Homo sapiens: one gene and its partner. The protein of the gene in region 2 interacts with the protein of the main gene of each other region in a pairwise test. Each region holds a gene or a part of one and is shown on either strand. Other genes may lie near its edges.

Evidence for each region. Proteins that work in one complex are often made in the same cells at the same time.
Region 1: the proteins of CCDC146 (region 2) and PPP2R3C interact in binary tests that used the Homo sapiens proteins (3 or more experiments, as listed by UniProt).

Annotation. Positions count from the first base shown.
Region 1 is NC_000014.9:35,111,503-35,119,299, reverse strand, and holds part of PPP2R3C (serine/threonine-protein phosphatase 2A regulatory subunit B'' subunit gamma), read left to right. Parts: intron 1-2,562; coding exon 2,563-2,690; intron 2,691-6,169; exon of another isoform or gene 6,170-7,225; coding exon of another isoform or gene 7,226-7,255; intron 7,256-7,797. UniProt on the Homo sapiens protein: May regulate MCM3AP phosphorylation through phosphatase recruitment. May act as a negative regulator of ABCB1 expression and function through the dephosphorylation of ABCB1 by TFPI2/PPP2R3C complex.
Region 2 is NC_000007.14:77,272,047-77,279,843, forward strand, and holds part of CCDC146 (coiled-coil domain-containing protein 146), read left to right. Parts: intron 1-1,647; coding exon 1,648-1,743; intron 1,744-2,176; exon of another isoform or gene 2,177-2,321; intron 2,322-2,435; coding exon 2,436-2,606; intron 2,607-5,467; exon of another isoform or gene 5,468-5,529; intron 5,530-6,097; exon of another isoform or gene 6,098-6,306; intron 6,307-6,705; coding exon 6,706-6,794; intron 6,795-6,890; coding exon 6,891-7,055; intron 7,056-7,797. UniProt on the Homo sapiens protein: Essential for sperm flagellum biogenesis and male fertility.

The DNA.
Region 1 (7,797 bases), on a different chromosome or scaffold from region 2:
TCGGGAGGCCGAGGTAGGCAGATCACTTGAGGTCAGGAGTTCAAGACCAGCCTGGCCAACATGGTGAAAGTCCGTCTCTACTAAAAATACAAAAAGTAGCTGGGCGCAGTGGTGCACACCTGTAATCCCAGCTACTTGGGAGGCTGAAGCGGGAGAATCGCTTGAACCCAGGAGGCAGAAGTTGCGGTGAGCTGAGATTACGACACTGCTCTCCAGCCTGGGCGATAGAACGAGACTACATCTCAAAAAAAAAAAAAAAAGTCATTTGATCCCACATCCCTCTCCAGCTTCTGTTGCATTTCTCTGCACTCTTCATAGGAAAACTTCTCAAAGAAGTTACCTGTACTTGGCTGGGCGCAGTGGCTCATGCCTGTAATCCCAGCACTTTGGGAGGCTGAAGTGGGTGGATCACCTGAGGTCAGGAGACAGACCAGCCTGGCCAACGTGGTGAAACGCTCTCTCTACTAAAAATACAAAATTTAGCCGGGCATTGTGGCAAGTGTCTGTAATCCCAGCTACTCAGGAGGCTGAGGCAGGAGAATCACTTCAACCCAGGAGGTGAAGTTTGCAGTGAGCCAAGATCGCGCCACTGCCCTCCAGCCTGGGTGACAGTGAGACTCAGTCTCGGAAAAAAAAAAAAAAAAAAGGAAGGTACCTGTACTTGTACTTTGTGTGCTTTCTTGACCCCTTAACTCTTAAACCCACTGCATTCTTTTAGCAGATATTTATTGCATGCCTGTTTTGTGCCAAGTACCGTTGTAGCTTATAGCAGAACACAAAAAAATCTCTGTCTTTGTAGAACTTACACTTTAGTGTGGAGAGAAATAATAAAATAATAAGTAAATTATATAGGTTGTACAGCACCTGCGTAAGTCTGGTTCCTTCATCAGTGTACTAGATCCTATCCTTTGTAGTAGATTCCATTTTTGCCTGCTGAAGGATGTACTCTTGCAGTTGTCCCTTCTCCTGTATCATCAGTTTTTCTTTAATCATTCCCATCAGCATATAAACATGCTGGTATTTCTCCCATCTTAAACTTTCTTGACTTAATTTCCACCTCTAGCCATTCCTCATTTTTCTGTTCCCCTTATAGCAATATTTGTTAAAACAGTTGTTGGTTAAATCTGTACTCGTCTCGAATTCCTGCTTGTCAAGAATCATCAGTGACTGCTATATTGTTAACTTCAGTGGTCAGTTGTCAGTCTTGACTTTGCTTGAAAAATTTTGCAGTTTTCTACAACAGCACTGAGCCATAGTAAAGAAATTAACTTATAGGTTTGGTCTAAGGTTAAAAATTAACATAATAGGCCAGGCATGGTGGCTCATGCCTGTAATCCCAGCACTTTGGGAGGCCGAGGTGGGCAGATCACCTGAGGTCAGGAGTTCAAGACCAGCCTGACCAACATGGAGAAGCCCCATCTCTACTAAAAATACAAAATTAGCCAGGCGTGGTGGCACATGCCCGTAATCCCAGCCACTCAGGAGGCTGAGGCAGGAGAATCCCTTGAACCTGGGAGGCGGAGGTTGCCGTGACCCGAGATCGTACCATTGCGCCCCAGCCTGGGCAACAAGAGTGAAGCTCCATCTCCAAAAAAAAAAAAATTAACAGATGCAGCAGAAATGCAGTCATAAAAGGAATTCAAGGAAACAATTACAGGCTTGTTGGGAAGGAAATGAGACCAGAAAGAGTAAAATAACTTTTGAGAAAATAGATCACAGAATTCAAGAGCTCAGTGAGGCTGAAGTGGAAATGGTATGGCAGTGAGGTTTTGAATTACCAGAAAGGATGATCTGAGAGTATATTTGAGCTTAAGATTTCAGAAAGGGATCAAGTAAAATCTGTGATCTTGTCATAGAACCAAATGGCAGAATGAACTAGAGGTGAAAGTCTTTGGAGTTGCAGGACCCATGGTCACCCACATAAATGTTTATTCATCCTAAATGATTGCAGGACCTTGTGAAGAACACTGTGTACCAGTCACCATAGTCCACAAATAAGTGGGGAGGAATTGGCTGAATGAGACAGCCACGTGCCAATAGCAGGCGAGTTGCAGGGTAATAGAGCCCTGAGTTTTGAGCTTCAGACAGAGGATGAGTTTTTTTGTTTGTTTTCTCTACATTAGGTAGAGAAACAGTGATTATGAGGCTGAAACTCCATGAGGTCAGGGGCTGGGGCTGTCTTGCTCACCCCTCATTCCGTGTCTACTACAGCGTTCTCTGTACATAGTAGGTGCTCAGTAAATTCTTTTCATTGAATGAATTAGGAGCACTCTACAGAGTTCTGTAGGAGAGGTAATTTGAGGAAGAGACTAGCTTTAGCGATAAACAGAAGTAGAGGGAGCATGAGAAATGGTTGAAGATGTAGAGGAGGCTGCTTCAGTAGAGGGTAGTGATTCTTGGTATTTCAGAAAAGTTAATATGCTCAGTGTCTAAGCACAATTGTGAAGGCCTTTTTGGCACTGCAACTATTTTAATTAAACTATTAATATAATATATAGGATGACCTGAGTAAAAGTACTGCTTGATTTTAAAAGTGCTCCCCTTAATCTGTTTTGTTACCAGAAAAAAAAAGTGAACAAGAATTAAAAGATGAAGAAATGGATTTATTTACAAAATATTACTCCGAATGGAAAGGAGGTAGAAAAAACACAAATGAATTCTATAAGACCATTCCCCGGTTTTATTATAGGGTAAGTAGTGTCTAATCAAATGTCCTGCAGAGTTTAAAAATGAAATATAATTTTTGGCAAGGCAGGGTGGCTCATACCTGTAATCCCAACACTTTGGGAGGCTGAGGCGGGAGGATCACTTGAGTCCAGGAATTTGAGACCAGCCAGGGCAACATAGCAAGATCCCATCTCTAAAAGAAATTTTTTAAAAAATAGCTGGACATGGTGATGCATGCCTGTAGTCCTAGCTTCTCAGGAGGCTGAAGCAGGAGGATTACTTGAGCCCAGGAGATCGAGGCAGCAGTGAGCCGTGATTGTGTCACTGCACTCCAGCCTGGGTAACAGAGTTAGACCCTGTCCTCCCCACCCCCAGAAAAAAAAGTAGTTTTAAAAATAGGACCAGAATTTTATGTTTTAAAAATAGAGAATTATATTTTAAATTTTATATATTATTTTATTGTAATTGATCTTATCACTATTATAAAACATTTTGAGCCCAATAAAATCCCAAGTTTAGATTTAAGTGGGTATGTAAACACAAAGTTGTTAAACTGTGGGCTTTTTCTTTCTGATTTTTATTATAGATATTAGTAGTAAGTATTCTATTGGATTATGTTATCAGGTATACACTTTGTTATAAAGTTTTAAAATTTTGCTCAAGGCTAAACCGAAAAATAGATTATGGAAAACCTAAAGAATTTCACTTGAGGCCAGGCATGGTGGCTCATGCCTGTAATCCCAACACTTTGGGAGGCCAAGGTGGGTGGTGGATCATGAGGTCAGGAGTTCGAGACCAGCCTGACCAACATGGTGAAACCCTGTCTCTACTCAAAATACAAAAATTAGCCAGGCGTGGTGGCGCGCGCCGGTAATCCTAGCTACTCAGGAGGCTGAGGCAGGAGAATCACTTGAACCCAGGAGGTGGAGGTTGTAGTGAGCCCAGATCGCGCCACTGCACTCCAGCCTGGGTGACAGAGCAAGGCTCTGTCTCAAACAAACAAACAAAAAAGGAATTTCACTTGATTATTTTTTCCTTGTGCCAAAACTCTGAAAATGGCTATGAAGGGACGTATAGACAAAATAGACCTTAAGAAAAGCTATTCATGGTAGGGTCACTGCACTCCAGCCTGGGTGATAGAGCAAAGACCCTGTCTCAAAAAAAAAATGTTGGCCAGGTGTGGTGACTCACACCTATAATCCTGTCACTTTGGGAGGCCATCAAATCAGGAGGATCACTTGAGGCCAGGAGTTTGAGAACCAGTCTGGGCAACTTGGTGAGATCGTGTCTCTCCAAAAAAAACTTAGCCGGGCATGGTGGTGCGCACCTGTAGTCCCCGCTACTCAGGAGGCTGAGGTGGAAGGATCGCTTGAGCTCAGGAGCTTGAGGCTGCAGTGAGCTGTGATCATGCCACTGCATTCCAGCCTGGGTGGCAGAGCAAGAGCCTATCTCAAAAAAAAAAAAAGAAAAAGAAAAAAAAAAAAGCCGTTTACAACCTGGCAATGGTAGGGCAATTCGCCTGTAGTCCCAGCTACTCTGAGAGGGTGAGGAAGGGAGAATCTCTTAAGCTCAGCAGTTTGAGACCAGCCTGGGCAACATAGTGAGACCACCCCACACCCCATCTTTTTGTTTTTTTTTTGAGATGGAGTCTCACTCTGTTGCCCAGGCCGGAGTGCAATGGCACGATCTCAGCTCACTGCGACCTCTGCCTCCCAGGTTCAAGTGATTCTCCTGCCTCAGCCCTCCTAAGTAGCTGGGATTATAGGTGTGCGCCACCACGCCCAGCTAGTTTTTGTATTTTTAGTAGAGACCGGGTTTCACCATGTTGGCCAGGCTGGTCTCGTACTCCTGATCTCAGGTGATCTACCTGCCTCGGCCTCCCAAAGTGCTGGGATTACAGGCGTGAGCCACCATGCTGGCCCATCCCATCTTTTTTTTTAGAGGTCTATTTTTTTTTCTTAAGGTCTATTTTGTCTATTTAAAAAAAATAAAAATAAAAAGCTATTTATACCTGAAACTGAAATCTACTGAAAAATACCTATTTAGTATTATACAAGTTAACTGGAATCTTAGCTGGATGTTCCTTGAACCTATTACCTTCTAACTCTATTAATTACAACGTTATTTGCAAGTATAGTAAACAATGATTTAGCTGGTGTTCTTACAGATTAAGGTATTTATATAAGTGAGTTATCCAGATACTGAAATATTTCTTCAAGTGCAAATTTTTTTCAACCGAACATTTTTTATTGGAAACCTTCCTATAATACTATATACTTCTCAACCTTTTAAGAATCATATGCCTGTAATCCTAGCCTATATTTATTGTAGAAAAGGAAAAAATATGGCTAAACAAGTTGATCTCTTCCCATGACAACATCACCCAACAATGTAAACAGAACATTTTATATGAATCTTTCTACATATTTCTGTGGGTATCTGTGTATTTTTTTAAATGGGATTACATCATACATACCTTTACTGCTTTTTGCATTTCACACTCTCCTTAAACAGAGGCAGCTAAATAACTGAATATTTTTGATAGCCGAGGGGAGAGAGAAGGGAATTGACATTTATTGAGTGTCTAAGCACTGCAGAGCCCTTTGTATTCTTTATCTCATTTAACCTGGATTCTTAAATAATATGTTACTGTTATCGAACATAGGTTCTTGGGTTCTCAATGCAAAAGGGAGAGAGAGCACCTGACTCTGAAAAGAGCTGGTAGGGCTTTTTAAAAAAAAATCAGGAATTGATATTAGGGTGGGGTATGCAGGCTGGGCTGGGCAAAGCAGATCAGGTAGGGTATGCAGGTCAGCATTGTCTGGTTGCTATGGTTATCTTGAGCAGCGGGCCACCTGGTCTGGCTAGAGGCAACAAGGCTGTAAATCAGTTGTTCAGCATTCCTTCCCCAGATAGGACACTCACTTCACAACTTTGGTTATCTCCTAGTTACTGGAATTCTTTTGAGTAAAAGGCATGGTTTGGACATTATGGTGTCAGTGAGGTAGTGGTGTGGGTTTTGTGATCAGTGGGAATGCATGAAAAGAGTGCCATAGTGGGAGTGAGCTGACCCAAGCCCCCATTCCTACTCTGTCTCATTCCTAACAGCTCTTGGATAGGAATGGTGTGACCCCGTTCCTGAGCCCAGGACTGAACTTTCTTGTACTTCCGGGACCAAACCTTTGCCTTCTTTTTCTGGTTCCTGAGGGAATCTCCTTTTTTTCCTTTCTTCGTGTCACTTCTCTCTTTGGCCACCTCTAGATCTTAGATGGTCTCCTGTCTGCAGCTATGGATTTGTAAAAAAGTCCTTTCCCTTCTTTCTTCTTCCTCTCCATGGTCCCACTGCTTCAGAGAAAACACCTATTATCTTGAGTCACCACTTCTCTCCTTGGCTGATTAGCTGGTTAACTAGCCACTAGAACACAATGTCAGTCACCCCCAACTCCAGCCCCATCCCCATCTCCTAATGTTTCTTCTGTTGACGAAGAGTTGAACTCTGTAAAATATTTGAAGAGATTTATTCTGAGCCAAATATGAGTGGCCATGGCCTGTGACACAGCCTTCAAGAGATCCTGAGAACATGTACCAAAGGTGGTTTGGGTGCAGCTTGGTTTCATACATTTTAGGGAGGCATGAGACATCAATCAAATACATTTGAGAAATACATTGGTTTGATCCAGAAAGGTGGGACAATTTGAAGTGGGGCTTCCAGGCTACAGGTAAATTCAAATGTTTTCTGGTTGACACTTGGCTGAGTTTGTCTAAAGACCTGGGATCAAACAGAAAGGAATGTCTGGGTTAAGATAAGAGGCTGTAGCGACCAAGGTTTTATCATGCAGATGAAGCTTTTAGCTAGCAGGCTTCAGAGAGAATAGGTTGCAAAATGTTTCTTATTAGACTTAAAGTCTGTGTTGATGTTAATGCCAGAGAGGTATAACGAGGCATGTTTGACCCCCACTTCCCATCATGCCCTGAAACAGTCTCTCAGGTTAAATTTTAAGGGCGCTGACTGAGGAGGAAGTCCATTCAGATGGTTGGGGGGCCTTAGAATTTTATTTTTGGTTTATACTCCTTTAACTCTGTTCCTTCTGATGGGAGGGATGGCATCTTAGTTCCTGGAAATGAAAGATGAAAACCATAACCCCAAGTTTTGACGTAAGGTTTACCGAGGTAATTTAATGGGGCTAAGATGTAGAAAAGGAAGAAGAACTCTTTAAAGTAAATTATTCTGGCTGGGTGTGGTGGCTCATGCCTGTAATCCTAGCACTTTGGGAGGCCAAGGTGGGAGGACTGCTTGAGTCCAGGACTTCAAGACCAACCTGGGCAACATAGCAAGACCCTGCCTCTATTATTAATTTAAAAAAGAAGAAATAAAGCAAATTGTTCTAAGTCAGGTTGGAATGAATCATTCTAAAGCTCTGCTCATGGAAATCACCCCAGTTGGCAAACCCTCTTGCCTGGGAGGCCAACATAATAGGCACTGCCTTGACTGTCTCCAAGAAGAAAGGTGATCCAATCTCAACAGGCATGCTTTCCTAAAACTGGACAAGAAGAATAAATGGTTTTTGCTGGACAGGAAGAATTACAGGTAAGAACCACCCAACAGGTTCTTCTTGCCTGCTACCCAGATAGAGCCAATTTATCAAGATGGGAATTGCAAGAGAGAAATAATTTCATATACATGGAGACAGCTAAATGGGAGACAGGAGTTTTATTATTACTCAAATCAGCCTTCTTGAAAAGTTGGAGGCTAGGGTTTTTCAAGGATAGTTTGGTAGGCAGGGGCTAGGGAATGGGTACTGCTGATTGGTTGGGGATGGAATCACAGGGATATAGAAAAACAGTCCTGGTCCTTGCGTGCTGAGTCTGCTTCTGGGTTGGGGCCACAGAGGAGTGGCTGGTCTGAGAGGGGCCATTGGGTAGTCAGAAGTGCAAAAGCCTGAAAAGACATCTCAAAAGGCCAGTCCTGTGTACTACAATAGTGATGTTATTTACAGGAGTAATTGAGGATGTTGCAAATTTTTGTGCCCTCTGGAATAATAACTGCTAATCATTTAACTGACCTGCATCTTAGCAGAATTCTGGTCCTTCGCATCCTCCTGACCTGGTGTCCTTTCATTAGTTTTACAA
Region 2 (7,797 bases):
GTTTGCTGGAGTTCCTCTATCCAGGAGGTCTTAACTTGACTTTCCTAAAGGAGAAATCAACACTTCCTTGATGAATATTCACATCTTCCAGGAAGGCTTTCCCAATTATTCAATTCTATACTGAGTTCTCCCTTTTCTGATCTGCTATAGCAATTTTATGTTTGTTAAGCCCACAACATTCTGTATATTGTCAGACATGTTTCACAAGACCACATCTCGTTTTCCTAAGTCCAGTGTGTGCATCTCAAGAGCTAGTGCTCCAGGGTAGGAGACCCAATGGAAAAGCAGGACATGGACACCTGAGGGTACAGAAGGTGCTACTGAAGATACCCTGATTCATGGATGATGGGGCATCCAAAGACACACTTTAGTGACTTTAACATAGCAGCATGATCCTCAAAAAGATCCTGTTAAGTAACCTTCAAATCACTAGACAGTGTGATATTCCTTTCTTGGGTCTAAATTTTGGCCATTATTCAACCTTAGGGCCTACAAGTGTGTGCTGTCACAGTAGGAACTGAACCACATCAGATTGGAGTCATGAGCTTTTGGTGTAAATAGCCAACTCTAAACTTGCTCTAAGTCAAGTAGGCTGGAAGCACCCCAAGATGACCCTCCCTGTAGCCTTGAATGGTACCCTTTCCCCATCAGCTGCCACATGTCCTCCTCTCTACTCTCGTCTTCATCACAAAGAATCTGACAAGCTCATTCCTAATAGGGCAACAAAGACTTAAAGAGTGAGATTTGCCTTTTCCCTAAAGTACGTCAACACAGGAGAAAAGTGCAAGCCGTTACAACAGAAATGTAATGGTGAAATTTTAGGTATCAACCAAAAAGTTGAGGCTTTTCTTTTGTGTAAGAAATTTCCAGCTACTAATCAAATGACTATATATAAGTAGCAAACTATCCCCACTATTATTAATAAATTACATATTTTTCTTTATCCTATACAATTTCATAAATGTACTCACATTTTATAATAACTATAATTTGAATAGTCATAGTATATTCATGTCTCCAAAGTGCTGGGTCATGAGTTAGATGAGTTAGGCAGATCATGGGTTCCAAGTCTACCTCCCTGGGTTTACACCTGCACCATTGAGGCAAGTTGCTTAAATGTGTTTGTGCCTCATTCTCTTCATCTGTACAATTGGAGAAAATATTCCCCACCTCATGAGGGGTATTGTAATGATGAAATAAGATCGTATACACAGGCATTTAGAACCTTGCTGGACACTTGGTTTATGTTCAATAAATGTTAGCTATTAGTAAGATTTATTTCTAAATAATAAACATTTGCAGCTGGCAAATTATAGATTTTTGGCAGGTCTTCATATTTTAATTTGCCATGGCTTATAAAGAATATTTGGCATAAAGGGAAGTTCTTATAAGATTGAGATTCGTGATTTGCTCAGCATTTTCAAAAAGTGTGTGATGAGGTTGACTACACAGCAGTGAATTTTATTTATTTATTTATTTATTTATTTATTTTCAGACAGAGTCTCACTCTGTCACCCAGGCTGGAGTGCAGTGGCACGATCTCAGCTCACTGCAACTTCTGCCTCCCGGGTTCAAGCAATTCTCTGCCTCAGCCTCCCAAAGATTTATTTCTTACATAAATGCATGTTTTTAAATTTTGATTTCCAGATGGAAGCTATCCCCAAAGATGATTCTACATTATCTGAGAGAAGGCGAGAGCTTCACAAGGAAGTTGAAGTAGCTAAGAGGAATTTGGCCCAACAGGTTAATATCAATGCTCATTTAAGCTTCTATCTAAGAAGCGTTCATACAAAGTTGTGCTTTTAACTGTGCTCCACAAAACCTTATCAATAAGAGAGTCATCAAAGAGAGTATGATCCTGCTTCATGTGGGCATATTTCTTCATCTCAAAGTCCACTCCAATCCTACACTAAATTTGAGAAAAAAGAATATGTTTGAACCGCAAAAAGTATTCAAAGGAATGAGATTTTTAAATTATGGGCTGTTGATTACATTAAAAGTAAACCACAGATGTTTTATTTCACCAATGTCTAATTTCAAATTTTCGTTTGTTTTTATGTGTCTTCTTTTTCTTAGTCACTTGAAAATACAGTCTAAATACAAAGAGGTTCTATCATGTTAACCCATCGATTTTCACATTATTTTACAAAATGAAAACAATGAAGCTAAAACACCATTACTTTATTTTTAATTTTTATTTTTTTTATAGAGAGGGATCTTGCTATGTTGCTCAGGCTGGTCTTGAACTGCTGGCCTCAAGTCATCATCCTGCCTCAGCCTCCCAAAGGCTTGAATTACAGGCGTGAGCCACCACACCTGGCCTGTTTAAAAAAATACATTTTGTATAGGAAGTAAAAAGGTAGTCTAAGATACTAGCTTTACTGTATTACTTCAAACAAATAACTTATAATATTATCTGTGTTTTTTTTCAAAAGAAAATTATATCAGAAATGGAGTCTAAGTTAGTAGAACAACAACTTGCAGAAGAAAACAAGCTTTTAAAGGAGCAAGAAAACATGAAAGAGCTAGTAGTCAACCTTCTCCGCATGACTCAAATCAAAATTGATGAAAAGGAACAAAAGTCCAAGGATTTCCTGAAAGCTCAGGTAACTGCATTTTTTTAACCATTCATTGATAACTACAAGAGTTCAGGGTAGCCTCATTATAATGCCACGTGCATTAGGACATGGATGAAGCTAGAAACCATCATTGTCAGCAAACTATCGCAAGGACAAAAAACCAAACATTGCATGTTCTCACTCATAGATGGGAATTGAACAATGAGAACACTTGGACACAGGAAGGGGAACATCACACACCGGGGCCTGTTGTGGGGTGAGGGGAGCGGGGAGGGATAGCATTAGGAGATATACCTAATGTAAATGATGAGTTAATGGGTGCAGCACACCAACATGGCACATGTATACATACGTAACTAACTTGCACATTGTGCACATGTATCCTAGAACTTAAAGTATAATAAAAATATATAAATATTAAAAAAAGAACTGGAAGGAAACTCAAAAAAAAAAAGAAAAGCTATACAATTGACCCTTGAACAACATGGATTTGAACTGCATGGGTCCATTTATACACAGATTTTTTTCAACCAAATGCAGATCAAAAGTAGAGTACTCACAGAATACAAAACCTGCAAATATGGAAGGCCCACTTTTCTTACAGGTGAGTTCCACAGGGCCAACTTTGGGACTGCTTGAATATGCTTGGATTTTTGTATTCTCAAAGGGTCCTGGAACCAGTTCCCTATGTATACCAAGGAACCACTATAACTGTGCCTCTCCTTCAAGTACCAGTGACTATAAATCTTCCCTAAATGAGATTCAATCATGCACTGAAAGATAGTCCCAAGATTCAATTAACAGTAATCAACAATTTAGATGGGAAAGGAGATCATTGATAATGATCGGAGGATTTGAACAGATGGCAATTTCAGTAAGAATAAAGTGGGTGCCTCCAGTGGACAGGGCTGGCAGCTGCATAGGCTGCAGATATCATTTAGTTTTCACTCCCATCTCAGACTCCACTGTGATTTGTCCAGGAACAACTCAAGAGTGGTAGCATTAGGTAACTGTCCCTCCCAACTTCATCAAGACAGCATCATTTAATCGAATGCCAGATACCCTTAGTTGCTTCATCACACCATGATTTTCCTGGGCCTCCTACAAAGTGCCAGTGCAACATTCCCCCCTAAAATCAACAATAAAACAAATGGTAAGGCAGCACTCCTGTCATGCAAGCTAAAATTCTACCATTAGAATTGTTTATTCCATATAAGGATTATGTCCAGATCATGCCCAGAAGCTCCCTGTTAAAAATAAACAGGATATTACATATTACTAAAATAGAAGAATTTATCAGGCCAGGCATGGTGACTCATGCCTGTAATCTCAGCACTTTGGGAGGCTGAGGCGGGTGGATAACTTGAGGTCAGGAGTTTGAGACCAGCCTGACCAACATGGTGAAACCCCATCTCTACTGAAATACAAAAATTAGCCAGGCATGGTGGCAGGTGCCTGTAATCCCAGCTACTTGGGAGACTGAGGCAGGAGAATCGTTTGAACCTAGGAGGTGGAGGTTGTAGTGAGCCAAAATCGCACCACTGCATTCCAGCCTGGGTGACAGAGCGAGACTTCCTCTCAAAAATAAAAAAAAAAAAGAATTTATCTCATGACCCAGATGTGGTCTGTTTGGTCTGTTTCTAAGCACATCCCTTGTTCTCAGTCTAAGTAAGGATTTACATAGAATGGTATTTCTTCTCATTCTGCAGAAAGAGCTCACTCACGCCAAAGCATTAGTGAGCAATGAGGTATGAAGTAGATTTTTGCAAAAAAGAGAAGATCTACATTGCACAACCCACTGCAGGCACTTCACATCCCCCTTTCACTGTTTATTTTTCTACTTTAATATTTAAGAAACTAAAAGAAGTTCAGGATGGCTGGCACATGGGAAGATGGGGAGAAAGGATGTCAAATAGTGAGACCAGAGAGCGGGACAAGTCAGATGATGAAAGTCACTTAATCCATGTTAAACAATTTAGACTCCATAATGAAGGCTGCAGCAAGAGTGAAGTTCATGGAGTAGTTGGGTTTCACTAGGTAAAGAAGTGGTCAGGGAGGACTGGATGAAAGAAAGGCAGCTTCAAAGCACAGGGTGGCTAAGCGGGTAAGATGCAGGAGCAGGACAAGGAGAGGAGAGAGGAGAGATGTGGGAAGATCATCTTGGGCCAGGAGCGGTCTCTCACGCCTGTAATCCCAACACGTTGGGAGGCCAAGGCGGGTGGATCACCTGAGGTCAGGAGTTCAAGACCAGCCTGCCCAACATGGTGAAAGCCCATCTCTACTAAAAGTACAAAAAATTAGCCTGGCGTGGTGGTGGGCACCTGTAATCCCGGCTACTCAGGAGGCAGAGGCATGAGAATCGCTTGAACCCAGGAGGCGGAGGTTGCAGTGAGCTGAGATTGCGCCACTGCACTCCAGCCTGGGTGACAGAGCGAGACTCTGTCTCAAAAACGAAAAATAAAGAATAAGAAGGAAGGAAGGGAGGGAGGGAAGGAAGGAAAAGAAGGAAGAAGAAAGCCATCTTCACCAAGTCAGGGTCTGGGACAACTTGGTGTTGGCTGGGAAGATCCCACTCAAGTGAGTCTTTCCTAGTTAGAAACTTCCTCCCTTTTCTCTTTAGAAATTACAGAAACACCAGAGGTATACTTATTTGTTATAAGAAACACTGATCCGTTTTATGAATTAGATAATTTTCAATTAATTTCAAAAACTGATATACATGTATATCTATGTGTGACTAATCTATGTAAAGCAAACCTCATTATTAAATGAGCTAATTTGTATTAAACCAAAATAGACAATTCTTCTTGAGATACAGAAATTGATAAAGGACAAATGTTTATCCCTTGAGTATTTTTAGCATTAGGAATTAGTGTGTTAAACATTACCTGTACTTAGCTGCAGTTTCCATAAGAAGGCAATCTTTTATGTTCACATTGCATCCACATCCCTAAAGACAAAGGTGAAGAAAAAAAAACAATGTCACTATCACCCCTAAGACAGAATAGATGACACTACATTTTCCCATCTGTTTTATTATTCATGTGTACAGTTACTTAAATATTCGTTTCTTCCTGACCCCTATTCTCATGGAGAACAGCATTAGAAAAATGCTACACATCAATCTTGGCTCTATGGCTAGTTTCTTTCAAATCACTCATACCAAAAGGGCTTTGCTCTCAGTCCTTGAGAGAAGGCTGACAAACTCTTTCCTCTGGTTTACTACCAGCAAATCCTTCATTTTTGAATATGTTTCTTATCCCAGATGCAAGAACCAGTATCTTTTGATTTGAAGAACATAACTAGTGTATTTAGCACTTGATATATTTTTTAGAACTCTAGAAATATAACTGCTTTCTTTTAAAATATTTATGTGTAACACCTCCTTACAGCTGATCTCAATATGATGCCTTATTATGTAGGAAAACACCCCACATACAAAAGAATGGAAAGCACTTTAAAATCATTGCTTCAGTCTCTGACAAAACACCACAGAGGGTTCAGTTTATAACACTCACCAAAACTTACTAGGAATCCTCTTCTCTCATCTATTTTCCATAAACTACACTCACCCAGTCCAGCTGTGTGGTTCAAAATCACTCTTCCTCTCTCTCAAAAGTTGTCCAAACTTTTCCTCAAACCCAAGCCATGCAGGCTCTTTGCGTTTTCTCTTCTCTCGTTTGTTCTCTTCTTTAGGTAACAGTTAACAGTTTGTCTTAGCCAATGTGAATCAGTTCAGCTAGCCAGGGAATTTTCAGATCTCTTTTACCCTTCACCCTGATCTGTACAACCCAGCAAGCCAAGAAATAATTTTTTTTTTTTTTTTTTTTTTTTTGGAGAGACAGGATCTTACTTTGTCGCCCAGGCTGGAGCGGAGTGATGCAATCATGGCTCACTGCAGCCTCGAATTCTTGGGCTCGAGCGATCCTCCCACCTCAGCCTCCTGAGTAGCTGGGACTACAGGTGCACACCACCATACCCAGATAATTTTTTTATTTTTGTAGAGATGAGGTCTCACTATGTTGCCTAGGCTGGAGAATTGTCTTTAATGGAAGGGAATGATGTGGGATAAATCTGGGAGTGTTCATATGTTGTTATTTATTTCACATTTTTTTGTACATTTCAGCAAAAATACACCAACATTGTTAAAGAAATGAAAGCAAAGGATCTTGAAATCAGGATACACAAGAAGAAAAAATGTGAAATTTATCGGAGGTAAAGTAATTATGTGGTGTTTTATCTACGTAGGTGAGGGGAAAAAAACCTGATGTTCATTTCATAAGTTTCAGTAAACACTTTGTATTTTTACAGACTGAGAGAGTTTGCTAAACTGTATGACACCATTCGAAATGAAAGAAACAAATTTGTTAACTTACTCCACAAAGCTCATCAGAAAGTAAATGAAATAAAAGAAAGGCATAAAATGTCATTAAATGAACTTGAAATTCTGAGAAATAGTGCCGTTAGTCAAGAAAGGTAAGTGTTATAATAACTATTGGCCTTTCAAAGGCTTGTTTTCTGATTCATTTGAACTCTAAAAATCCTGGGGATAAGAAGATAGGAAAGAGGCAGAGGCTGCAATGAGCCAAGATGGTGCCACTGCCCTCCAGCCTGGGTGACAGAATGAGACCCTGTCTCAAAAAAATAATAAAAATAAAAAATAAAAAGAATAGTATTTTAGAAAGCCAGAATTAGAAATCCAGAAAAAGCCCTTGTTCAAACATCTTGTTTTATAGATGATAATCTACCATGCTTCTACTCTTTGGGAGTCATTTTTTTAATGAATGAAAAACCATAACATATAACTATGCTTACTATGATGATTTTCACCTGCCCAATTAGAAAGAAAAGCACAAATCTAATAATTGGGATTGGGAAGTTAGAAAACAATCAAATCGTTTGTTAACCAACATCCCCTGATTGTAGATGTAAAGCATCTCATGTGTTGTGGGAGGCAATACGTTATAGCAGATTGGTGAAAGAGGTGGTGTCCAGACTCAAATACCACCCCTCCCACTTATTACCTCTGTAACCTTGGACAAGCTGCTTTGTCTCTCTGAGCTCACTTTCCTTATCCATACCATATTTCATGCGACATTTTACTGTGAAATGAGCTAATTCATATAAAAACACTCAGAAAAGCGTCTGGCAAATGGTTGTTTTCTTCATTTATTATTTACCATGTGCCAAGATCTTCTGGACTCTTTCACCTATGTTA